Linked DNA regions of Homo sapiens: regions 2 and 3 are each linked to region 1. The links come from fine-mapping of genetic effects on gene expression. A gene starts in region 1. Each other region holds a variant in brackets. All regions are shown on one strand. Distances are from middle to middle.

Region 1 (8,173 bases):
CAAGGCCAAGTCCCCACTCCCGGGCGATGAGACGCAGCACATGGGCTGCGTCTTTTGTGACCCCGTCTTCCAGGAGCTGGTGGAGCTGAAGCATGCGGCCTCCTGCCACCCCATGCACCGCGGTGGACCAGGGAGAAGGCAGGGTCGAGGGCGGGGCCGGGCCAGGAGGCCCCCTGGGAAGCCCAACCCCAGACGGCCCAAGGACAAGATGTCAGCCCTGGCCGCCTACTTTGTATGATGACCCTGTCCTCCCTCACCCAGGCTGCAGTGCCATGCAGACACCTCATGGCACTTCAAACTATTAAAATGCATTTTATCTTATCCAGAGCTGGGGCCCCTTTGCTGGTGCAGCGATGTCAGAGCGTTACCGTGTCCCTGGGCACCTGTGGGGCCCTCTCTCCCTCTCCGAAACCCAATACGTCTCCCTTCAGCCTGCATACACGTGCCCAGAGTGCTCCCTGCTATCCCTACACCCTGGCAGTACGGGCAGGGATGCCCCAACCCTGAAGCCCTGGGGAATAGACCCAGTTTGCACTCACACCCCATCTCAATCCGTGCTGCTGATGGTAGCTGTGTGCACAAGCAGTGGCCCTGATGCCTTAAGGAAGGCGGCCTTGACAGCTGTGGCTCCGGCAGGAGAGGAGTCTAGTGGAGCAGGTGGGGCTGGGAGACCCCCTCCCCGGATCTGGCTTATGAATCCCCTTGGTCTTCGCTGCAGCCCCCTGCTCAGGGCCACGCTCTTGACCCCACACTTCTCCGTCCCCTGCTCCCTGCTCCCATCTCTGAGAAGCCCTGTACATGGTGCCCGTGTGCGTCTGGCAGCTTCCCAGGACCTGCTGCAATTCCCATTCTCACAACAAGCCCTTATGGTCTTAGAGGCAGCTGGGTGCCCCATGGAACCCATTCACATGCCAGGTTTAGAAAATACCCTGTAGGCCAGACTGCCGTGTGGTGCCAGGTGCTGGTGGCAGCTGCCCTCTGACCTCAGTGCCTTCTTGTGCTCCCCTCCCCAGCCACCCGAGGAGAGACACCTGTGCGGGATCCACTGTGTGTTGGAAACTCCCTCCACACTCCGCCCGTGCCTCATTGAGTGATGACGGGAGCTCAGCAAAACAGCTTTCCAGACTGTTCAGTGGGACCTTTCTTTGAGGGGCAGGTCAGGAATGTTTCGGACTCAGACCCGCCCCCGCCCCAACTCAGTAGTAGATTCCCAGGCTGCACCAGGACTTATATGAGAGCTCCTGTAAGGAAACCCAGAGCCCACCAAGCATACCCCCCCTGGACCCCCTTCCTGGAGGCCCTCACAGGTTAACACGGGGGTTCCCTGGAACACAGTTTGGAGAGCTACTCGAAGCTGAATGAAAATACAGAGACATGGGGAACCACATAGAGGGTCCTGGGATGTGTCTCAGAAGCACAGGCTTCAGGAAGGAGGGGGTGCTCTCAGAGCTTCTGCCCCCTCCCACCCACTCTGGTCCCATTCTGGGGCCCTAGCAAGGCCACACCTGTTAGGTCCCCAGTGCGGGGCTGTGACTCTGCTCTTCCACCCACAGGGCCCAGTGGACCTGGAGCCTTCTCCGCAGAAGGTTTCAAGACCTCCAGGACCCTTAGGTTATAGGGCTCATTCAGGCTTGGAGGAGCAGAGACGGTTCCTAGGTCTTAAACCCAGACCACCCAGTCCTTCCTTACTATGCTTCTGCACTGCGCTTTCAGCCACAGGCAGGGCTAATCACAAAGTGTTCCTTTATTTTCCTCTGCAGTTGTCCCTTGTGTGTGACCCTCCTTCAAGGCCCTTGGCTTCCGCAGCTTGATTCTGCACTCCGAGTCCATTCACCTTCTCCCATCCAATAGCATCCAACCCCGCTGCTACTGCTGCCAACCTGGCCTTGGGAGCAATGAGGACAAGGAAGGGACAAGACCCCTTTTAGGCCAGAACTGCCTTCAGATCAGCCACGCTCCATGGGACTGTACCTCTGCCCTGGAGGCTGGAGAGGTCAGTGGCTGCAGACTGTCTCAAGGAGCCCCTGGCCCTGCCCACCTAGCCAGGGGTGCAGCCTTGCCAGAGAAGCAGAGAAGCGTCTGTGGCTGGGTGGGTGATATTGAAAGATTCCTTTCACCAGGGTGGAAGCCAGGATCTGAGGCGTGATGGAATGTGGACAGTGAGGCAGTGACAGCGCCACAAGGCAGGAGTCATCTCCAGGCACGTCCTTGGCCTGGAGCCCATAGGGACAAGCTCCTGGTGGTGCCTCACTTTGCCATCCTCTCTAAGCCGCAGACCTTGAATGGAATCAGTGCTCAAGAGTCTAATTGGGCCCACTCTGAGGATGCCTGCGGGAATATCAGCTTTTACCGCACCACACTGCACTTTACAGTGTGGGAGGGCCTGCCCCACGCACCACCTCACCTGTACTGCGGTTCTCAAACTTCACCCTACAGCCATTCTGTTGTAGGTGATCTCAGGGGCAGTTTGAGAAACAGTGGCTCAGGGTCTCACAGCAGCCCTCTGAGATAGGTTGGTTGCTATTGTCCCGATTTTTTCTCATCAAGAAACTGAGGCTCAGGTGAGCTAAGGAATGTGCCCAGGGCCACTGTTTATAAGAAGTAGCCTCAAGCCTTGCTCATGGTTACTGCCCTGACAGGGATCTAGGAAAGAGTGAGCAGGAGAATGGGATGAGGCAGGACCCTCCGCCCCAGCCCTGCTTTCTCTGCCCAGACACCTCCTGCCTTGCAGACCCAACCCCACCCCAGATGGTTTCCTTTCCAGTCACCCAGCTGCTAGTTCTCCAGGTTCCTGGTCTCACTCCAGGTTCCTCCTGTTAGAGAAGCATCCCAGAGACATTCATTCCTGGCAAGGACACAGGCCTGCGGACCTGAAGGTCAGGTGGGCAGAGCCACATAAGATCTGGTGCCCCATCCTCCATTTAAAAAATTATACTTTCCAACGGCATTGGTATAAAGGTGAATATATTAATATCATATATTAAAACATTTTCTTTGACATAAAGGTTTCTTTCTTCTGCCTTTAAAATAAAATATTTTGGCCAGGTGTAATGGTTCACACCTATAATCCCAGCACTTGGGAAGGCTGAGGCAGGAGGATCACTTGAGCCCAAGAGTTCAAGACCAGCCTGGGCAACATAGAGACCCTGTCTCTACAAATTTTTTTTAATCAGCTGGGCGTGGTGGTGCTTGCCTGTGTTCCCAGACACTAGGAAGGCTGAGGCAGGAGGGGAGGGTCACTTGAGCCCAGGAGTTTGAGGCTGCAGTGAGCTGTGATCATGCCACTGCACTCCAGTGTGGGCACCAGAGAAGGAGCTTGTCTCTAAAAAGAGAGAAAAAGAATATTTTCAAGAGCCTCTGTGTTGGCAGAAAAATGGCCCTTCAGAGATGTTCATGTCCTATACCTGTGCCTGTGTTAGATTACATGGCAGACCCGGCATAGTGGCTCACGCCTGTACTGTAATCCCAGCACTTTGGGAGGCCGAGGCAGGCAGATCATTTGAGGTCAGGAGTTTGAGACCAGCCTGACCAACATGGTGAAACCCCATCTCTACTAAAAATACAAAAAAAATTAGCCGGGCATGGTGGTGCGTGCCTGCAGTCCCAGCTACTCGGGAGGCTGAGGCAGGAAAATCGCTTGAACCAGGGAGGCAGAGGTTGCAGTGAGTCGAGGTCATGCCACTGCAGTACAGCCTGGGTGACAGGGTGAGACTCCGTGTCAAAAAAAAATAATAATAATAATAAGGGGCAAAGGGGAATTAAGGTTGCTAATCAACTGATTTAGAGAGATGATGCTGGACTATCTGGGTGGGCCCAATGGCATCAGGAGGGTCTTTAGAAGTAGCAGAAGGAAGCAGAGGAGGGAACCAGAGGTGGCAGTGTGAGAAAGGCTCAACTGGCCATTGCTGGCTTCGAGGCTGTAGGAAGGGGCCACGAGCCAAGGTATGCAGGGAGCCCTTAGGAGCTGGAAAAGGCAGGGGAACAGTTTCTCCCCTAGAATCCTCAGAAAGGAACGCATTCTGGCGATCCCTGGATCTTCGCCCACTGAGGCTAAGTGGACTTCTGACCTCCAGAACGGAAAGATAACAAAAGCCTCAACGTTTGTGGAAACAAACAACTCATAATGAGCCTGGGACTGTGCCTCCTTCCCGGACGGATGAGCCTGCCTGGGCAGTCTGGGTTTGCATCCCTGCTCTGTCACTTACCAGCTATTGACGGCAGAAGTTGCTTAATTTCTGGGCGCTGTGACCTAGGGATTGCTTTCCCCATCCAGCCGCCCACCCAAAGCTGCAGAAGAGAAGCAAGAGGCTGGTGACTGGGGCGGCTCCGGAGCCCAGGTGGAGCCGCAGTTCGCCTACCACTAAAGGGCCGCAGTCACCGTCCACGTAGCCGCCAGGGGGCAGCAGAGGTCCGGCCCCGCCAGCCTGGAGGCCCGACTGCGCCTGCGCGGCGCCCGCGGCGCCCGCGGCGGCCAGGGACGGGAAGTGGGCGGGGCCGGCCGGCAGCAGCTTGCGGGACACGGAGCCGCGAGGAGACAGCTGAGGCCCGCGGAGACCAGGGGTGAGGAGGCCGGGGGGGACGGGATTAGAGGGCTGACGGGGCTGGGACGAGGGTCAGGCGAGCGCCCAAGGCGCACAGGGGTGAAATGGGACCGAGGAACCGGAGGGGTGGAATCAGAGGGCTGGGGAGGCAAGGAGGCCGAGACGAGGCTCACATGGGTGCACCGAAAGGGTGCGGGGGTGCAGTGCGGGGGGCCGAGGAGCAAGAGGGGCCGCTGCGGACATGAGGAACCCGAGGCTGGGAGTTGGGGGGCTGGGGAGCCAAGGGGGCAGAACTGGGGGGCAGGCGGGGGTGTGGCCGAGCCGAGGGCCTGGTAGGGACCGAGGGCTATGAGGCAGAATCGGGTGCTGAGGGGGACGCGCCCCATTTTCCGAGATTTGGCCTCTCCCCACCCCCCAGGAGCCTCTGGGCCGGCACGTTGCCCCATATCCCCCCAGTCCCTGCACCTTCAGGGGCCCAGTCTGCCTGATGGCCCCCGGCTCCGCGGCCTCCCAAGCGTCCGTGAAGCGAGCGTCAGCTGCACAAGTGCTCGGGCTGCAGCTGCTTCAGCCACAGGTCTGTGAGCCAGAGCCTCAGGCGCGGAGGCCGGGCACATTGCCGCTGGGTTCGGTCAGGCAAGCCCCTGAACCTGTCTGTACAACAGGAAGAACTGGCTCCGGCTGCAGGGATTTCGGCACAGCGCTTGACACACAGTGAGGCCCACTGCATGGTGGCGGGCTCCTTCGAAGCCTTCCACCCTGCGGGACAGAGTCACACATGTCGTGGTGGCATTCCCCGGGACAAGTTCTCTGGGCCCAGCTGAGCTCTCACCACGGGGGATAGAAAGTGGGGCCGGCCAGCACTCTGAGGCCATCTCCAGTCTCTTCTGTTGTCAAATTTCGCTCTTTTCCTCCTGCACGCGAGGTGGAAATACCAAAGGCATTGGGCATCCAGAGACCTTGATTGAGTTCGCTTTGCCCTTTCACCTGTGTGAGACCTTAAATGGGTGCTTGCCCTCCTATAACCTATTTCTTCATCTGCAGTGTAGCCTGACAGTATGTACTTCTCAGCGTAGTTGTGAGAGGTAAACAAAACGAATGCATTTCTGAAAGCCATGAACCTCTACACAAGTTCATTTGTGGAATTCCTTTAAGATACCCCCTGAAGGCCGGGCGCGGTGGCTCATACCTGTAATCCCAGCACTTTGGGAGGCCGAGGCAGGCATATCACCTGAGGTCAAGAGTTCCAGACCAGCATGGCAAAATCCCATCTCTACTAAAAATACAAAAATTAGCCGCGCGTGGTGGCAGGTGCCTGTAATCCTAGCTACTCAGGAGGCTGAGGCAGGAGAATTGCTTGAACCTGGGAGGCGAAGGTTGCAGTGAGCTGAGATCCCACCATTGCACTCCAGCCTGGGCAACAAGAGCGAAACTCCCTCTCAAAAAAAAAAAAAAAAAAAAAAAGGATACCATCTGACCTGAAGCCAACCGAGTCTTTTAAGACCTGGCGCTGCTGCCCACTGCACCCTTCAGAGTGGTGTAGCTTCCTCAGCCCATGCCACCCGCCAGTCACTCTTCCCTCTGCCATCACACTTACCACCTGCTGTACACAAAGGGCCATCGTGGGCTCCCTGACTACAGGGAGCTTACAGTCTATCAAGAAAGTCAGGCCTGTAGAAAGAAATGGTCATTGCACAGCAATGTGACTATGCTTAATGCCATGGAACTGTACGCTTAGAAATGGTTAAAAGGATACATAGTGTGTATATTTTACAACAATAAAAAAAATTTATATATGTAGAAAAAAAATCTAGGATTTACATCTAACTATTATTAGTATTAGTAGTTATGAATAAAGAAATAAGAATCTCTTTTGGTAGAAAAAGGTTGGCCAGGCGTGGTGTCTCATACCTGTAATCACAGCACTTTGGGAGGCTGAGGCGGGCAGATCACCTGAGGTCAGGAGTTCGAGACCAGCCTGGCCAACATGGTGAAACCCCATCTCTACTAAAAATACAAAAAAATTAGCCAGGCGTGGTTGTGGGTGCCTGTAATCCCAGCTACTAGGGAGGCTTAGGCAGGAGAATCACTTGAACCTGAGAGGCGGAGGTTGCCGTGAGCCAAGATTGCGCCACTGCACTCCGGCCTGGGTGACAGAGCAAGACTCTGTCTCAAAAAAAACAAAAACAAAAAAAAACAGTTAACATGAATGATGCTTTTGTTACACTATAGTGGTGCAGTTCCCTTTTCTAAGGATTGCTGGGTTTTTTTCATTACCTTGGTTCTGCAGTTAAGCAAGACTCAACAAGTATTTTTTCTATGTCCCCTAAAAAACTGCAGTTGTTAAACCCTGCATTCGTTAAGCTTAGGAGTCAAAACTAATGCACTAGAGGAAAATAAATATTTTAAATTAAAAAAAAAAAAACTTTTTACAAGTCAGATGTGAGCAAAAGTGCCATAGAGACATGAAAGAGAGCATGCTGGATCCAAAGATGGGGAGATTTCAGCAAAGCCTCAAAGGATCTGAGAGATCTCGGGAGGCAAAATGGAAGGAGGGCACCACAAAACAAGGAGGGGAGGGGCTGCCCTAGGGTGGGGGGTACACAGAAATGGAAGGAGGAGCCATGAGAGAGCCAAAGCCCAGAGCTGGTGGCCAATGAGGGACAGGTCAGGGATAGAAGGAGTCAGAATGACTTCCCAGGTGTCATCACAGTTAAGGCCCAGGTTCCCCAGCATGAACCCCACCCTGGGACTTTGGGCAAGTTCCTTAGCTCTTCTGCTACAGCCTGCCCTGTGAAGTGGGGATAACCACAAGAGGTTGTTGGGAGGCTAAAAGCCATCCCAGGAAGAGTGCTCAGAGCAGGGGCGGATGGCAGCTGGCAGCACCGTCAGCCACACCCCTGCAGCTGCCCCCCGATGAGTTTGCTTTGCCATTTCTCACCTATGTGGGACCTTAAATAGGTTCTAGGAGGGTGAGCACCCATTTGGTGTGCAGTGGGGCCCTGATCCAGGAGGAACCAGCTGCCAGTCGCATTTGGTCAGACTGGTCCAGGCAGGCGGTGCTGGGATGCAGGAGTCCAATGTCCCTCCCATGCCCACCCCGGGCTCTTGGTGATTTGCACAGGCTCATGCACACGTCCCTCTTATTCGGAGTTTTTCACTGGTGTGCCCTGCTCAGGAAAGCCCAGCACCAGGCTCCGCTGCCTCTGGTGCTCTCCCAGCTCTCCCTACTCCCTGCGGCTTGCCGCTGGCCTCCATGCCATTCCTGATGCTGTCTCTTCCAGTTGATCCCTCAAAGAACCACAGCACTGTCCCCTGCCCCTCCAGGCACTCCCAGGGCTGCCTCTGGTTTCCCTTGGTGAGGAATTTCTCCTTCCTGCCGGGTGTGCCATGGTGTACGTCAGATTCAGGAGCTTATTGGGAAAAGGAAGGAAATGATTCCTGTCCCTTTCGACATCTGGGCTCCAGGGAGAGAAAGCTGTGTCCTGGTTTCTCTCCTCACCCCTTGCCTTAGGTTGGTGATGCAGAAACAAGGGTGCTTGGTCCCCAGCAAGTAAGATGGCCCTGGGCACCCTGCCTTTGTAACAAGAGCAGGCAGTTGGCACAGGCCCTGAGAGTAAGCCAGCCTGTCCCCT
Region 2 (8,173 bases), 25 kb after region 1:
AATTAAAAAAAAAAATTAGCCAGGTATGGTGGCACGCGCCTATAGTCCCAGCTACTTGGGAGGCTGAGGCATGAGAATCACTTGAGCCCAGGAGATGGAAGTTGCAGTGAGCTGAGACTGTGCCACTGCACTCCAGCCTGGGTGACAGAGCAAGATTTTGCCTCTAAATAAATAAATAGCCAGGCGCAGTGACTCACGCCTGTAATCCTAGCACTTTGGGAGGCCAAGGCAGGCAGATTGCCTGAGCTCAGGAGTTCAAGACCAGCCTGGGAAAGAAACATGGCAAAACCCCGTCTCTACTAAAAACACAAAAAATTAGCCAGGCGTGGTGCTGTACGCCTGTAATCTTAGCTACTTGGGAGGCTGAGGCAGGAGAATCACTTGAACCCGGGAGGCGGAGGTTGCACTGAGCCGAGATTGTGCCACTGCAGCCCAGCCTGAATGACAGAGCAAGACTCTGTCTCTAAATAAATAAATAAATAAATAAATAAACATCTTTATTGAGATACAATTGACAGGTAGTAAGTGGTGCATATTTGAAGTCCACAATTTGGCAAGTTTTGGCTTATACACATATACACCTGTGGATTCCTCACCACAGTAACGGAAGTATTCATCACCCCCGGAAGCTTCATCCTGCCCCGTGTCATCCTCTGCCCTTCCCTACCTCCTCTCAACTCTCATGGGCCCTCTCTCCCTGCAGCGGCTGCAGAGCGGCACCACAGGTGTGTGTGCGCTCATTGCAGGAGCGACCCTGCACGTCGCCTGGCTCGGGGATTCCCAGGTCATTTTGGTACAGCAGGGACAGGTGGTGAAGCTGATGGAGCCACACAGACCAGAACGGCAGGTAAGGGGATCCCTGCGCCCAGGCCCAGGATATTCCTGGCCTCCATCATGCTGGGCCCATAGGGGAACCCCACCCAGCCTGGGAACTTCAGGTAGTAGTAATCCTGGCACCTTTCAAGAGGGAGGGCTCCCTGCCTGATTTGAGTGGCCGGGGGTCCCACGTGAGCCCTTCCTGAGAGCTCTGTGGGTCACAGCTATATGGAGCCCAGAGCTCCGGGGGAGAGCAGAGCCCTCTGCACTGACAGGCATCCCAGTGCAGTCAGTGCAGCCCAGTGCAGACCAGAGCCCATCATACACACGGACAAGGAGGCCACAGGCTGTGGGTGAGGAAGGCCTCAGGGAGGTGATGCTGCCCCGAGGCTGGAGGGAACCTGGCTTGGGGCTGTACTGACTAGAGGCTGCCTGGGACCCTGGCACTCAGGTCATCACCTGGACATGAGGATGACAGTCCCACTCAGACCTCTTCTCAGAAGACTGTCTCATCCATGTGTCTCCTGAGGTTGGATTGCGAGCATTCAGATATCATGGAATGACTGTTTATCCCTCAAACCCCACTTTTCCCACGTGCTGTTCTCCACCAGCTATGTTTGATTAACCATGCACATGGTGGATAATTCTACGTCAGCACATAGGAGCACCCATCCTTTCTTGGGGCTGCGGACATTGCATTCATCATGCAGTCCCTTGTGGGTGAGCATGAAGATCTTTTCAGTCTTTCGGTGCTAAAAACAATGCATCTCTACCTACTTTGTGCAGCATTAATTGCTCAGAGTCAAGTGTACCTATATCTGTAGGACACATCCCCAGAAGTGGGATGGCTAGGTTGGAACTGATGCACGTACAGTCTGGGTAGATTTGCCAAGCTTCCCACCTCAGGCCATGCCAGCCTGGGCTGGCACTACATTCCCAAGAAGGTCCATTTCCCCACAGTCTCACCAGGCTGCAGGATTCTTCCTGTCAGGTAAGAAGCCTGTCTTGGGGCAATTGTTAAGTTTGCTTTTCTGTTACAGAGTGAGTTTGAGCGTGTTTTCAAAAGCTGAAGATCATTTACACAGCCTTTCCTGCAAACACTGTTTTTTTCCTTTGCCTGTTTTTCTTATCAGTTTATAGGTTCCTTGTATATGTGAAGGAGGTTGGTTCCTTGTCTGTGATGATTTGCAAATGTTTTTCCATGCATCTTTTATTTTTGTTTATGGGCTTTTGCCACATGGAGGCTTTGTGTTTTTCTGTAGTTGAGTAGTCTTTTTGTGGCTTCTGGTTTGGAAAGCACATAGAGACACCAGGACTTGATGATTGTAACAGTCAGGGGCAGCTACATTCCTTGGCCTTTCACTGCGGCTCACGGTCTGGTATGGGCCCCCTGTACGTCCTCTCCCCATTGTACAGAGGAGAAAACTGAGGCTCAGTCACTTGCCCAGAGCACACCGCCAAAGTCACAGATAGTCTCTGCCACTCCCCTGCCTCCACCACCGTGGGGGAATTTGGCACCTGCTCCCTAGTGGGCTCTCCTCCCCAGGATATGCAGTCAGATGAAATGTGGCCAAGTCAGGATTCGTGCTGGGCCCACTCCCACCTGCTGCCTGCACACCTACAGGCTCAGCATTCAGCACCCCATTAAAGCCCAGTGGGGGCTCTGTTCAAACACTGCCTGAGTCCTGCAGTATGGCGTCGTGGCAGAGCATGGACAGATGGCCTTGCCTGGTCCCGGCTCCACCGCTTCCAAGTCCATCACACAGGGGTCCCTGGAGGTTTGGGGTAAGGATTGAGTGTCCCAGTGCATGTGGAGCACAGAGATCAGAGCTTGCACAAGAGAAGCACACACAGGTGTCTGTGTTCTTGGCTGCAGCCCGCATGGGCCAAGGAGTTCAGATCCAGTGCCCCCCACCTCCCCTTTCCTGCCGCCATGCTCTGTAGGCTTGGCCCCTCCTGCTGTGATCCTGATCACAGCCTTCCACCCTAGAGAATTAATCACAGATCCAGGCCAAGGTTCTCCCACAAAAACAAGCATCATGTCGGTTACAAGAGCAAGAAACTGGCCTCAACTTGGCGAGCTTCAACGGGGGTCCAGCAGCGGCCCAGAGCAGCTTCCAGGAGTACGTGGGGGGAGTGCGTGGTGCTCTGCCTTGTTCTGCGGCTGTCTGAACAGTCTCCTGCCTCTGCACTCAGTTCAGCCTCCAAACACTGAGTGCCCACTCTGCACAAGATACTTTGTTGAGGCAGTGAGATAACACAGGACCCACTTCCTGCCTCTAAGTCTAATGGGGGAGCAGGAGGAGGGCAAGGACCTGGCAGGATGAGGCAGAGAGATGAATGGAATGGAGCCGCATCTCAGGCAGTTGCAATTCCTGCAGGCCAGGGGAGAGACCAGGAGGAAAGGGCAGGTTATGCCAGAATCAGGGCCAGGTGTGGAGGTGTGCCCCAAGTGATCCTCCCACCTCTCAAGCCTCAGGAGACAGGAGGATGGCTTGAGCCCTAGAGGTTGAGGCTGCAGTGAGCTATGTTCATGACACTGCACTCCAGCCTTGGCAACAGAGTGAGACCCTGTCTTCAAAAAACAAAAACAAGCCCCAGAATCAGTGGGTAGAAGACTCGGGGCAGGGGAGAAGACCACCCACCTGCTGCTCCTTCAGCTGGAAAAGCTGGACTGCCCCAGGCTGGGAGGAACTCTGTAAGGACTCACTAGAAGCTTCTGAAGTGATCAGGCCACTGGAGGACAAGTTGAGGGCTGGGTCACAAAAGTGAGTTCAGGAGGGCAGTGAGAGTCACTCAAGGTCACAGGTCACGCTGGCACGCCTGGCAGGCAGCCTGGGAGAGATAGGAGTCCCGGCTCTGCAGGTGGAGACATCGCAGAGGGCCTTGGGCATCCAGGAGGATGGCAGTGCCATAGGCGACGCTGCTGCGGCCTGGCCGTGTGGAGCACTGCACTCCTAGGAAGCAGGAAATGGCTGTTCACAGGAACCCACAGGCCACCGGCTCCAGCTTTGACCTGGGAAGCTGTTTCAGGCAGGTGGAGAGGATGAGGTTTGAGGAGCAGAGGGAAGAGCTGCTGAGGGGGTGGGCGCTGGGCAGTCGGGAGGCGAAGGCAGGAGATGGCTTGAGCCCTAGAGGTCGAGGCTGCAGTGAGCTATGTTCATGACACTGCACTCCAGCCTTGGCAACAAAGCAAGACCCTGTCTCCAAAAAAAAAAAAAAAAAAAAAAAAAAAACAAAACAAAAAACAGAATCAAGAATCAGTGACTAGGAGACTCAGGGGGAATGGGACAAGACCCCTTAGCCTGGGGATATGTTAGTCCCGGACCAGACTGAGCCTGGCCAGTGTGTGACGGAGGTGGGAGCCACTGGAGGGGAGGAGGACCCAGGTTCAGGGCCAGGGTTAGAGGGGCGAGCCCGGGGAGCCGGCGCAGCCTGTCCAGCACAGGGGGTGCAGAATGGCAGGAGAGGGGATCACAGGCTGCAGGGGAGCAGCACAGCCCCTGTGCCCTCCTGCCCTTTGGCTCCACCCTGTCCCACAGCCATCCCTGGTGGTGGGGAGGGGCTTCAGGTAGGAAGGTTCTAAGCTTAGCCTGCATGGCCCCCTGTGGGGGAGAGCCACCTCCAGAGGGCATGGGAAGCAGATTGCCGTTCATTCTCCATCACCTGCCCACATTCCTGCCTCTGGGACATTGAGGGGCTGGAGTGGGCTGGGGTGTGTGGGAGACAGAAGCAGAGAAAGGCTCCTCATTCTCCCTGGAGCCTCCCACGCTCACAGCCCCTCCCCAGGGAACGCCTCTGAGGCACAGGGGAGGAGGCGCTGCTTCCTCTGCAGCTCCTCGCCGTCTGCAGGCGCCTTCACGCGTGTGTGTGGGCACATGTATGTGTGAACATTCGTGCGTACTCTGTGTTC[A/G]TCCACCTGCCTCTCCCCGTGCCCTTTCTCCTGCCCTCTTCTTGGCTGTCTCCTGCTCTTCCCTCCTTCCTGGTCCTCCTTGCCTTTCCCTTGCCCTGCTCAGACCCCGGAGGTGGCAGATCTTAGACCCAGAGAGAGCCTTGAGGTCCCTGTTCCTGCCCCCTTCATGGCTTGATTCTCCACCTCAGCTGGGACAGGAGCACCCAGCCTACCAGGCACTGGTCCAGTTCCCACACAGGCTCATGGCTGCAGTGCCCAGGAAGGCCGGGACTCCTGCAAACCCATGTCATTCCCACCACAATGCCCTCTGCAGGGGAGCCACATAAAGAGGCCTGGTCCTTGGTGCAGGCATCTGGAGAGGGCTGCCTCCCCCAGGCCTCCCGCAGTGCATGTCCGTCTGCTCTGGGGAGGGAATTGGCTGATATCCCAATCTGTCTAGGGGACACCATCACCTGGGGCATCAGAGTTCTCATGCCCAGCTGGTGCTGTGCCTGGGGACTAGAAGGGCTGGTGCTGCGTGGGGTCAAGAGGTTTACCTGATAAACCGGTAAGGGATGCCCTCTTCCCCCAGTAGACTTGGGAGGTGCCTCACTCCCAGGGTGCCTCCGTCACTCTGTCAGGGATGCTGTTGTGCAGGCTTCAGTCAGCAGGCTCTCATCGGGGCAGCCTCTCCTTTGGGCAGAGGCTGATAGGACCAAAGAGGTTTCTAGAGGACTTGTGGGTGGACCAAGCCTCTGTCCTGTCCCTGGAGGAACCCAGGCCTGGGGTGTTGTGGTCCCCAGCTGAGTGGAGACTGTGCCTGTGCTGAGCTTGGGTAGAGGAGGACAAGAACTAGGCCAGGCGCGGTGGCTCACACCTGTAATCCCAGCACTTTGGGAAGCCGAGGAGGGTGGATCATGAGGTCAGGAGATCGAGACCAGTCTGGCCAACTTTGAGAAACCCTGTCTCCATTAAAAACACAAAAAAATTAGCTGGGCATGGTGGCACGCCCCTGTAGTCACAGCTACTCAGGAGGCTGAGGCAGGAGAATCACTTGAACCCAGGAGGCAGAGGTTGTAGTGAGCCAAGATCGTGCCACTTCACTCCAGCCAGGTGACAGAGCGAGACTCTGTCTCAAAAAAAAAAAAAAAAAAGAACTGGGCGGGCACAGGCTGCCGTCAGGGCCTCGCTCAGGCTTCCCTGCTGTGTGACCACTCACGTCACATGCTCCATCTTGGCCCAGCAGCTTTCAGGGCAGAGACGGTGTCCCCGAGCTAGAGACAGGGAAGCAGAAGGATCTGCTGTCTGTGTCGGGCTCGCAAGCCTCGTGAGTGCCTCCCTGACCCAGAATGCTGCCCAGGGGCGCAGGCACCGCTAGGCGGCCTCAGGTGGTCCGTTCATTTCACCATTCCTGCAACTAAAGGACTTGTGGGTTGTGTATAATTTCTCACTGTTTTTGATGAGCCTCGTTTGGGTGCATCTCTGAGCCTCCTGGCTTTGTTCCAGTGCTGCGGCTTTGAATGCTGCTGTCTTAGAAGCAGCTGTGCCTCTGCTCAGGTAGCAGCAGGGGGCTTCACGCCCCATCCCCCCGGCCCTGCCCCCAACTCTGGCTGTGTTTCTGCAGGATGAGAAGGCGCGCATTGAAGCATTGGGTGGCTTTGTGTCTCACATGGACTGCTGGAGAGTCAACGGGACCCTGGCCGTCTCCAGAGCCATCGGTGAGAGCCAAAGAGGCCGACCCAAGTGGGAGAAGGTCTCTCGGAAGCCCAGGCCTCGAGTGTGGCCCGCGGCTCACCAGGGGTTCAGGGAGGCAGTGTGATGGGCCGAGGGGGATTTGTCATGCACTGGGGTGATACCCTCGTAGTGTGAAGGGAACAGGGCAGATTCAGAGACTGCAGCACCAGTGTCTGAGTGTAAGTTACACTGTATGTTATTATCTCACCTAAAACAGCTCCTACAAATCTCATAGAAACCTGTGGCTCACCACCCTATGGGCTGGAAGTAGAGCTTCCAATATTCCGGAAATGAGGTTTATCCTCCTCCCGCGTTCATGCTGACAATCCTTTTTTCTCTTTTGGGAAAAAAGTGGGTTCGCTGGGCGCGGTGGCTCACGCCTGTAATCCCAGCACTTTGGGAGGCCGAGGTGGGTGGATCACCTGAGGTCGGGAGTTCGAGACCAGCCTGATGAAACCCCATGTCTACTAAAAAAAAAATACAAAAAATTAGCCAGGCATGGTAGTGAGCCCCTGTAATTCCAGCTATTCAGAAGGCTGAGGCAGGAGAATCACTTGAACCCAGAAGGCGGAGGTTGCAGTGAGCTGAGATCGCGCCACTCCACTCCAGCCTGGATAACGAGGAAAACTCTGTCTCAAAAAATAATAATAAAAATAAATAAAAATTTTAAAAAGTAATGGGTCTGGCTGGGCATGCTGGCTCACGCCTGTAATCCCAGCACTTTGGGAGGCCAAGGTGGGCGGATCACCTGAGATCGGGAGTTCGAGACCAGCCTGGCCAACATGGTGAAACCCCTTCTCTACAAAAAATACAAAGTTAGCCAGGTGTGGTGGCACGCGCCTGTAATCTCAGTTACTTGGGAGGCTGAGGGAGGAGAAGTGCTTGAACCCAGAGGCGGAGGTTACAGTAAGCGGAGATCGTGCCACTGCACTCCAGCCTGGGCAACAGAGCCAGACTGTGTCTCAAAAAAAAAAAAAAAAGTAGCTGGGCGCGGTGGCTCACGCCTGTAATCCCAGCACTTTGGGAGGCCAAGGCGGGTGGATCACCTGAGGTCAGGAGTTCGAGACCAGCCTGACCAACATGGTGAAACCCCATCTCTACTAAAAATACAAAAAACATTAGCCGGGCGTGGTGGTGCCTGCCTGTAATCGCAGCTACTTGGGATGCTGAGGCAGCAGGATCACCTGAACCCTGGAGGTGGAGGTTGCGGTGAGCCAAGATTGCACCATTGCACTGCAGCCTGGGCGACAAGAGCGAAACTCCATCTCAAAAAAAAAAAAAAAAGTGGGTCCAGCCTGCATCTCATTGTCTCAGCATGCGGTCAGTGCCGGGTCTCAGGCTGTGGGCACTGTGACCACACCTCCTTCCTGGTACTTAGAAAATCTCTCCCTCCCCAGCTGATTGCCAGGGATTTGGCACCTACCCCTCTGAAACATTCTGTCCTTTTTGGCAGATGTGGCACCTTCTTGACAGCCCATCCTCAGGCTGTGTCTTTCCTTGTGTCTCTGGACACTCCAGGAAGTGAGGCCAGGATGGGACGGCTAGGGCAGAGAAAGAGGGAGCTCGGCCTGGTGTGGTGGCTCATGCCTGTAATCCCAGCACTTTGGGAGGCTGAGGTGGGCAGATCACAAGGTCAAGAGATCGAGACCATCTTGGCCAACATGGTGAAACCCCATCTCTACTAAAATACAAAAAAAAAAAAAAACAATTAGCTGGGCATGGTGGCGCGAG
Region 3 (8,173 bases), 37 kb after region 1:
GAGCTGAGCAGGCAGTGCACCTCTGAGTGTCCCTTTTGTAAGGCCCAGGGGTTGCACTGAGTCTGCAGAGGCCGCGACCTCCTAGAACGCTGTGGGTGCAGGTGAGCCGGCGTGTCCTGGGGAGATGCTGCCAGCACACAGGGGCCCTCCTGCTGCCAGCAGGTTGGGGTGGTTAAGTCTTATTAGTGTCTATTCTTAAAATTAAGTGGGCTGGAGAAGAATGGAGCTCCACATGCCAGCACCGTATATGGAATACAAAAGCTGGGGAAGCAGGGCCTGCCTTACAGGTGTGGCTGACTCTGAGCCCAGGCCTGCAGGGGTGGAGGGCAGTCCCTCAGAATCCCAGAGGCAGTCCCAGCCTCAGAACCCAGGATAGGAAATGGGTGTGTTTAGTGGGGAAAGGGACGGGGTGCAGACGGCAGGGCCAGTATGGGGCCCCCTCCCTCTCCTCTCCTCTCCTATGGTGAGCCCAGCGTGGGCACCGGGCCGTCTCAGCCGTGTTCCCAGGGCTGGGAGGACAGCTCTGGCCCTTCTTAGGCCTAGCCTCGTCCCAAGCTAAATGTAAGCCAGTTGGGCTGTGTTAAAGGAAGCAGTGTTTTTGGTTCGATTCTGCCTCTGTAGCTCAAGGGGGGCAGCCCCCAGAGTCCTGTGCATTCTGCCAAGGCTCCATAGCTTTGCCAAATGCACGGAGCTCTGCCATTCCGGTGCAGTGCAGGCCTTGCGAAGGGTTTATCTGCGTTCGTCTCGGTGGGCTTCTCCTGCATGGGAGTTGTGTTCCTGTGCAAGGGGGAGCTTTGCTCCAGGACAGGATGACTGTCTTCCCTATTCTTAGGGACAAGTCCCAAGATGCCAGAAAGGCAGTCTCCCAAGGACCCACCATGCAGAAGTGTCAATAAACCACAAGTTCTGAACTCTGTCGCCCGAGTCCTGCCTTCTTCCTGACTTCTGAGCATCTTGTCCCCTTTGATGTCCAGATGTGTTTGGAAGCTGCTTTAATATTGGGGACCATCTGCAAATCTTGCGAAGCGAGCAGACAAATTCTGGAGAGAGCCCTGGTGGCCTACACCCTCCTGGTCTAGCCAGCAACCTGATTTTCCTCCCTGAGGGGCTCTGAGCCCACCCCCACCAGCAGCAGGAAGGTGACAGGAAAGGGATTAAGCCCCTGGGACCTCACATGACATTGGGGAGCCACAGGAGCATTGAGGACCCCTCATTTTATCCAGGAGCCTGATGTGCCCCAGGAGGTTCCATCCTGAGGATGGAGACCCTCTGACATGACGCTCTTGAGGCCCACCATTTATACCCTCCTGGCACCTCCTGAGGCCAGGTGTGGTGGCGCACACCTGTAATCCCAGCACTTTGGGAGGCTGAGGTGGGAGGATCTCTTGCGCTCAGGAGTTTGAGACCAGCCTGGGCAACATAGGGAGACCCCCATCTCTACAGATAATCAAAAAATTAGCCCCAGTATGATGGCACAAGCCTGTAGTCCCAGCTACTTAGGAGGCTGAGGCAGGAGGATCGCTTAAGTTTGAGGAGCTTGAGGCTGCAGTGAGCTAGGATTGCGCCACTGCACTCCATCCTGGGTGACAGAGCAAGACCTTGTCTCAAAAAAAGAACAAAGCACTGAGCCTTTCTTCTGCCCCCTGCTCCCGCCACCCCGCTCCGCCATCCTCGAAGCCTGCATGGCACTTGTCCCACATGGGAGCTCGGCTGCCGCCCAGAAGTGAATCCACTGCAGGTTCACTGCTGGTGCTCCCTGAGGGGCAGGGTTATAGGGGGTTTTTTCCTCCCCCCTTTAGGTTTTCTTCTAAATCCTAATTTTTTTTAGTACGGTGAACATGCTTTAAAAATGCTTTTATGTAATCTGTCATGGGAATTTTAAGGGAAAAAAAAGATAAAAATGCCTTAACAGAAGACCTGGAGAGATCCACCAGCAGCAGGGGTGGGCAGTGCTAAGCCCTGGGGTCCTGGTAGAGAACTAGGAATGGCAGTGGTGGCTGCACTAGGTGGGGGAGCGAGGCTGAGGGGGTGGGGAGCAGCGCTTCGGTGGTGGGCAAGCCTCACTGTTCCTGGTGGAAGGGACTGGCCCCTGATGGCTGCTTGGACAGATATCAGAAACTCACCTCAGGACCACCACACCTGATGGATTTTAGGGAACCCCCCACAAGGCCCGCCCACCTGCCTCCCTTTGCTCTAGACCTGTGGCCCCCAACCACAACCTCCAGTCCAGACCTCTGTAGCCTCACCCACCCAAGGACGGCCAGCAGCAAAATGCAGGGCCTTGGCCCGAGCGTTGCTGCTGGTCGCTTAGCAGGCTGGAGGGCTGGTTCCCCCTGAAGCCCCAGGATAGCACGCACAGGCCCAGTCCCATGTGGCTGCAGCTCCTAGCACACATGAAACTGCTCTTGGAGACGGCTTCAGAGCCTTCTCAGTGCCCTCAGGGGGTCAGTATTGAAGCAGCCAGTCGTGGGACTCTGTCGACCAGTCCTTCAGCGCATGTTGGCCAAGTGTTTGCCACGCTGCTGCAGGTGCTGGGGCAAGGGATGAGCCAGCTACCAATTCCCCACCTAAGACAAAGAGGATTCGGCTTATCACACAGGGGTCAAGTGCCCCTAGGCCGCAAAGCTGCTAAGGGGTCCAAGCCTTGGAAAGTCACCCTTCTCAGAGTCCCCAATTCTTCACTGCCTTTTGATCTTTGGTTCCTTTCTCAATCAAGAGAAAGCAAGGCAGCAGGGGCCGGGAAACTCGCCCTTGTGCTCCTGGCTGAGCTCAGGCTTCAAGGGCACACAAACATCAGAAATGCCTCCCCGCAGACACTGCCCAGCCACGGCCAAAAGTGCTGCCCTGAACTTCTCCGTAGAATGTGGGGGAGGCCCTCAGGCTTGTGGGCGCATGGGAGCAGCTGTCCTAGGGCTGCCTGAGCCCGGTGCCTTCCCCACTCCCACTTTGCCTGCAGGCCTCCTCTCTCCTGTCTGTAGCCTTGTCTGTGCATTTTCTCCTGGTCCTTCCCAAGCCACCTGAGAGAGCTCTCAGTCCCCTCCCCCGGCTCCCGGCAGTGCCTGCTGCCCAGGGCTGCAGCCTCCAACTCTCCAGGACCAGCGCCAGAAAAGCAGCTTTTTTTTTTTTTTTGAGAGAAGTCTTGTTCTGTCTCCAGGCTGGAGTGCAGTGGTGCGATCTTGGCTCACTACAACCTCCACCTCCTGGGTTCAAGCGATTCCCCTGCCTTAGCCTTCTGAGTAGCTGGGACTACGGGTGCACACCACCACGCCCAGCTAATTTTTGTGTAGAGATAGGGTTTCACCATGTTGGCCAGGATGGTCTTGATTTCTTGACCTTGTGATCCACCCGCCTCAGCCTCCCAAAGTACTGGGATTACAGGCGTGAGCAACCGCGCCTAGCCAAAAGACAGCTTTATCTGTGTCCACTGTGTCACAGAGGGGGCATCCTTAGGGAAGCAGGGGAACTAGCCCCGGATGCAAGAGCTGGGACCAGGCCCTGGGCCGCCCACCACACCTACTCAAGCATCCATGTCCTCCTCCCCACACCCCTGCTCCTCTGAAGCTCCCAGCAGGATTTCCTTCCTAAGTATCTGCTGTCTTGACTGTTCTCTGGTGAACTGGCTTATGTGTCTGAAACTCATCTTCACAGCCAGATAGTGGCTCAGTGCTCTCTGTCTGCCCCTCACTTTCACAGAGCTGATCCCGGAGAGCACCCTCTCTCAGGACCTCTGGGTGGGGGGGGGGGAGGCCCAAGGGACTGAGGGTGCACAGGCAGGCAGACGGGCTGGAGCTGCCTGGCACCTACAGGGGGTTCACCCATGGGAGCAGGCCACAGTGTGGCAAGTGGGGGTGGGG[A/G]TGGAGGTGAAAGGGGTGTGAGCCAACCCCTCAGTCAGGAGGGGGCCAAACCTGGAGCTAAGTCTAGCACAGACAGCTGAGGCCAGAGTCTGCCTGGGGAAGGGGTGGGGAGCTGGGGGGTTAGGACTGGGCCTCACACCCACCAAATGGAGGCTTCAGCTGGTGGAAGGGAGCCCAAAACCAAGGTCCCCCAGGCAAGAGGTGACGTGAGGCAGAGCCAGGGAAACAGAGGCAAGAATCCTGGCTGGGAGGGCTGATGACTGGCCTGCCCCAGATTTCCCTCAGAAGGTCCCTGGATCCCAGCTGCGTTGTGGTCCTGCAGATCCCTCCTGTTCTCACCTGGTCTTGAGAACAGGTGGCTGGTCTTGGGTGGAGCCAGGCTCTGAACCAGTTGAGGACAGGACCTCAGCTGGGGGGCTCCATACACAAAGCTGTCTTGGATCTGCTTCCTGGGACTTGGACATCGGTGTTCTGGACATCTGGGCCTCCCACAGCCAAGAAGTGGGCACAAGCCCTCGAGAGCCAGCCCTGAGGATTTGTCCTACCCCCATAGAGGGTCCTGGCCAGATGTGTTAGCTCCAGGAGCAGCACAGGGAGCCATGGTGGCACCAAAGCCCCATCACAGGCAGGCCTCTCCTTGGACCACTGTCCTAGGCAGTCACTGTGGCCATAGTCAGGGGACCTCTTCCTCACTCACTGCCCAGCCCCAGGAGGCTCAAAGGCCTGCCTCTGGGGCCCACTCCCTCCCTGCCATCTCAATGCCTGATCCCAACAATGTAGCAGACTTTTCTGAACAGCTTATCATGGTCTGTTTTCTTTCAGTAAGTGAAAGATTTTTGCACCAAGAAAAGTTTGTAGGCAGACATTTAGAAAAAAATAGTGGAAGTTTCTTACACCGTATGTGTCTATAAGGACACAGATATCAAGCCCTGACAATCCTATATGAGCAGTTCATCAGGTGCTGTTTTATTTCAGTAAATGGAAGACAAAAATCTTCTTCCTTTTTTTTTTCTTTTTTTTTTTTTTTGAGAGAGAGAGTCTCGCTCTGTCACCCAGGCTGGAGTGCAGTGGCGCGGTCTCAGCTCACTGCAACCTCTGCCTCCGAGGTTCAAGCGATTCTCTCGCCTCAGCCTCCCAAGTAGCTGGGACTACAGGCGTGGAGCACCATGCCTGGCTAATTTTTTGTACTTTAGTAGAGATGGGGTTTCACCATGTTGCTTAAGCTGGTCTCAAACTCACTCCTGAGCTCAGGCAGTCTGCCCACCTCGGCCTCCAAACGTGCTGGGATTACAGGCGTGAGCCACCACGCCTGGCTTTCTTCCATTTTTAAAACACAAAGCCTTTGACATCAACACCTTGAGAATTGATGTCCAGATCAGCTCCAAAGCCTAACAGTGAAACAGACCCACCAGCCAACATCAAAACAACTTTGCCCATAATAAGAAGATCCTTCTAGACTTCACCCTCGGCCGCCCCCACCACTCACCCTCTAACCAGTATCCTAAATGTTAGAATCATCCTCATAGATTTACCACTATGTCTATATCCCTACACACTGCTGTATAGTTTTGCTTATCTTTTAACTTTCTGAAAATGACATTTTACTGTCTGCTTTCTTATACTTCATGTTTGTGTCACTTAGCATATGTTTCTCGAATTCATCCATGCTGTGTGGGTTTCTGGATCTTTGCAGAAACAGAGCTGCCATAAACATTCTTGTCGGGTCTCCTGGTTTCCATGCACAGGAGTTTCTCTAGGGTATACACCAAGAAGTGAAAATGCTGGGCAGAGCAGGCTATGCAATTTGTAAATTAAAATTAAATTAATTGCATTAAAATTTAATTAAATTTTACATTTTTATTCTAATTTTTCCTTTTTTTTGTTGTTCGTTTTTTTGTTTGTTTGTTTTTTCGAGATGGTGTCTCACTCTGTCTCCTAGGCTGGAGTGCAATGGCACGTTCTCAGTTTACTGCAACCTCTGCCTCCTGGATTCAAGAGATCCTCTTGCCTCAGCCTCCCAAGTAGCTGGGATTACAGGCGCCTGCCACCATGCCCCACTAATTTTTGTGTTTTTAGTAGAGACGGCATTTTACCATGTTGGCCAGGCTGGTCTCAAACTCCTGACCTCAAGTGATCCATCTGCCTCAGCCTCCCAAAGTGCTGGGATTATAGGCATGAGCCACTGCACCTGGTCTTTTGTTTGTTTTTTGTTTTACAAGTGGGATCTCACTCTCTTGCCCAGGTTGGAGTCCAGTTGGCTCGCTGGAGCCTCGACCTCCTGGGTTCAATCTGGCCTCCCACCTAAGCCACCCAAGTAACTGGGACTACAGGTGCACACCACTATGCATGGCTAATTTTTTTACTTTTTTGTAGAGATGAGGTTTCACCATGTTGCCCAAGGTAGTCTTGAACTCCTGGCCTCAAGTGATCCGCCTGCCTCAGCCTCCCAAAGTGTTGGGATTACAGGCATGAGAGCCACTGCACCTGACCTAAACATTTTTTAAATTTATTTATTTATTTATTTTGAGACATAGTCTTGCTGTCTCACCCAGGCTAGAGTGCAATGGCGCCATCTCAGCTACGTCTCCCAGGTTCAAGCGATTCTCCTGCTTCAGCCTCCCGAGTAGCTGGGATTACAGGCGCCCGCCACCACACCCTGATAATTTTTTGTATTTTTAGTAGAGACGGGGTTTCACTATGTTGGCCAGGCTGGTCTTGAACTCCTGACCTCATGATCTGCCTGCCCAGGCCTCCCAAAGTGCTGGGATTGCAGGCATGAGCCACCACAATTGGCCCAATGTTTAGGGCTGGGCGCAGTGGCTCACGCCTGTAATCCCAGCACTTTGGGAGGCCGAGGTGGGCAGATCACGAGGTCAGGAGTTTGCGACTAGCCTGGCCAACATGGCAAGACCCCGTCTCTACTAAAAATGCAAAAACTAGCCAGGCGAGGTAGTGGGCACGTGCCTGTAATCCCAGCTACTCGGGAGGCTGAGGCAGGAGAATTGCTTGAACCCAGGAGATGGAGGCTGCAGTGAGCCAAGATCACGCCACTGCACTCCAGCCTGGGTGACAGAATGAGACTCTGTCTCAAATAAAATAAAATAAAACAAAATAGTTAAAATTAATTTACAAATTAAAATATGAGCTCATCTGGGCACAATGGCTCATGCCTGTAATCCAAGCACTTTGGGAGGCCAAGGCGGGTAGATCACCGGGTCAGGAGTTCAAGACCAGCCTGGCCAAGATGATGAACCCATCTCTACTAAAAATACAAAAAAAAATAGCTGGGCGTGGTGGCAGGCACCTGTAATTCCAGCTACTCCGGAGGCTGAGGCAGAGAATTGCTTGAACCCAGGAGGCGGAGATTGCAGGGAGCCAAGATCGTGCCATTGCACTCCATCCTGGGCAACAGAGCAAGACTCCATCTCAAAACACACACACACACACACACACACACACACACTATATATATATATGGGCTATATATATATATATATATGAGCTATATATATATGAGCAATATATATATATGAGCTATATATATATATATGAGCAATATATATATATGAGCTCACTGGGCATGATGGCTCACATCTATAATCCTAGCACTTTGGGAGGCCGAGGAAGGCGGATTGCCTGAGCTGAGGAGTTCAAAACCAGCCTGGGCAACACGGTGAAACCCCGTCTCTTCTAAAATACAAAAAATTAGCCGGGCGTGGCAGCGTGCGCCTGTAGTCCCAGCTACATAGGAGGCTGAGGCAGGAGAGTTGCTTGAACCCAGGAGGCAGAGGTTGCAGTGAGCCGAGATCACGCCACTGCACTCCAGCCTGGGCGACAGAGCAAGACTCCGTCTCCAAAAAAAAAAAAAAAAAAAAAAGAGTTCCTTGATAAAATATCAGGGATTTCTGTACAGCAGCAGCATCACATTAAACCAGGTGCAGGCCCCATGGGACCACACAGGTGTGCAGCCACAAGGCCAGTCTGCACTGAGTCTTCATGCCCACCTGTCTAGGCCATGCATCGGCTTGTACCCAATGTCAGTGCTCACAGCATTTCTGTTGTTTCTTGTCCTCACCACCTCGTTTCTCATCCTCACCACCACTTGGGACCATCCTACTTGTAAAATTTTTGTCAATGTAATGAATGTAAAATAGCATCGTGTTGTGATTTCAATTTGCACTTCCTTGGTTACCCAAGAGGGTGAGCAGTTGGTGAGTGTGTTGACTGTGGTGGCTTCTTCTTTTCCTTTTTAAGTAATGATGAGGTCTTATTTGTTACTCAGGCTGGCCTCAAACTCCTGAGCTCAAGCAGTCCTCTCA

Alleles and levels. Alleles are on the strand shown, and positions count from the first base shown. SD is a standard deviation of normalised expression in the study named. Not every link is listed here.
With allele A in place of G in region 3, the expression in tibial artery of the gene that starts at base 4,504 in region 1 is higher (small effect, 0.18 SD a copy in GTEx).

Evidence for each region. PIP is the estimated chance that this variant, and not a neighbour inherited with it, causes the effect. A credible set is the group of variants that fine-mapping cannot tell apart.
Region 2: its variant is the best candidate, but not a certain one, in a credible set for the expression of PPM1F in whole blood (INTERVAL, PIP 0.89).
Region 3: its variant is the best candidate, but not a certain one, in a credible set for the expression of PPM1F in tibial artery (GTEx, PIP 0.89).

Annotation. Positions count from the first base shown.
Region 1 is chr22:21,949,179-21,957,351 of GRCh38, reverse strand. It overlaps PPM1F (protein phosphatase, Mg2+/Mn2+ dependent 1F), which reads left to right and starts at 4,504. Exons shown (of 8, transcript NM_014634.4): 1 at 4,504-4,560. TOP3B (DNA topoisomerase III beta) reads left to right here. Exons shown (of 18, transcript NM_001282112.2): 18 at 1-327. The coding sequence ends at 238. RefSeq lists a silencer at 4,312-4,721 and enhancers at 4,715-5,235, 5,282-5,351.
Region 2 is chr22:21,923,822-21,931,994 of GRCh38, reverse strand. It overlaps PPM1F (protein phosphatase, Mg2+/Mn2+ dependent 1F), which reads left to right. Exons shown (of 8, transcript NM_014634.4): 6 at 704-847; 7 at 6,333-6,426. Among named protein-coding and RNA genes, the nearest start is that of PPM1F-AS1, 10 kb to the left of the region's middle. The variant A/G (reference allele first, on the strand shown) is at 4,730.
Region 3 is chr22:21,912,163-21,920,335 of GRCh38, reverse strand. PPM1F (protein phosphatase, Mg2+/Mn2+ dependent 1F) reads left to right here. Exons shown (of 8, transcript NM_014634.4): 8 at 1-911. Among named protein-coding and RNA genes, the nearest start is that of PPM1F-AS1, 22 kb to the left of the region's middle. RefSeq lists enhancers at 1-433, 2,609-3,419. The variant A/G (reference allele first, on the strand shown) is at 3,855.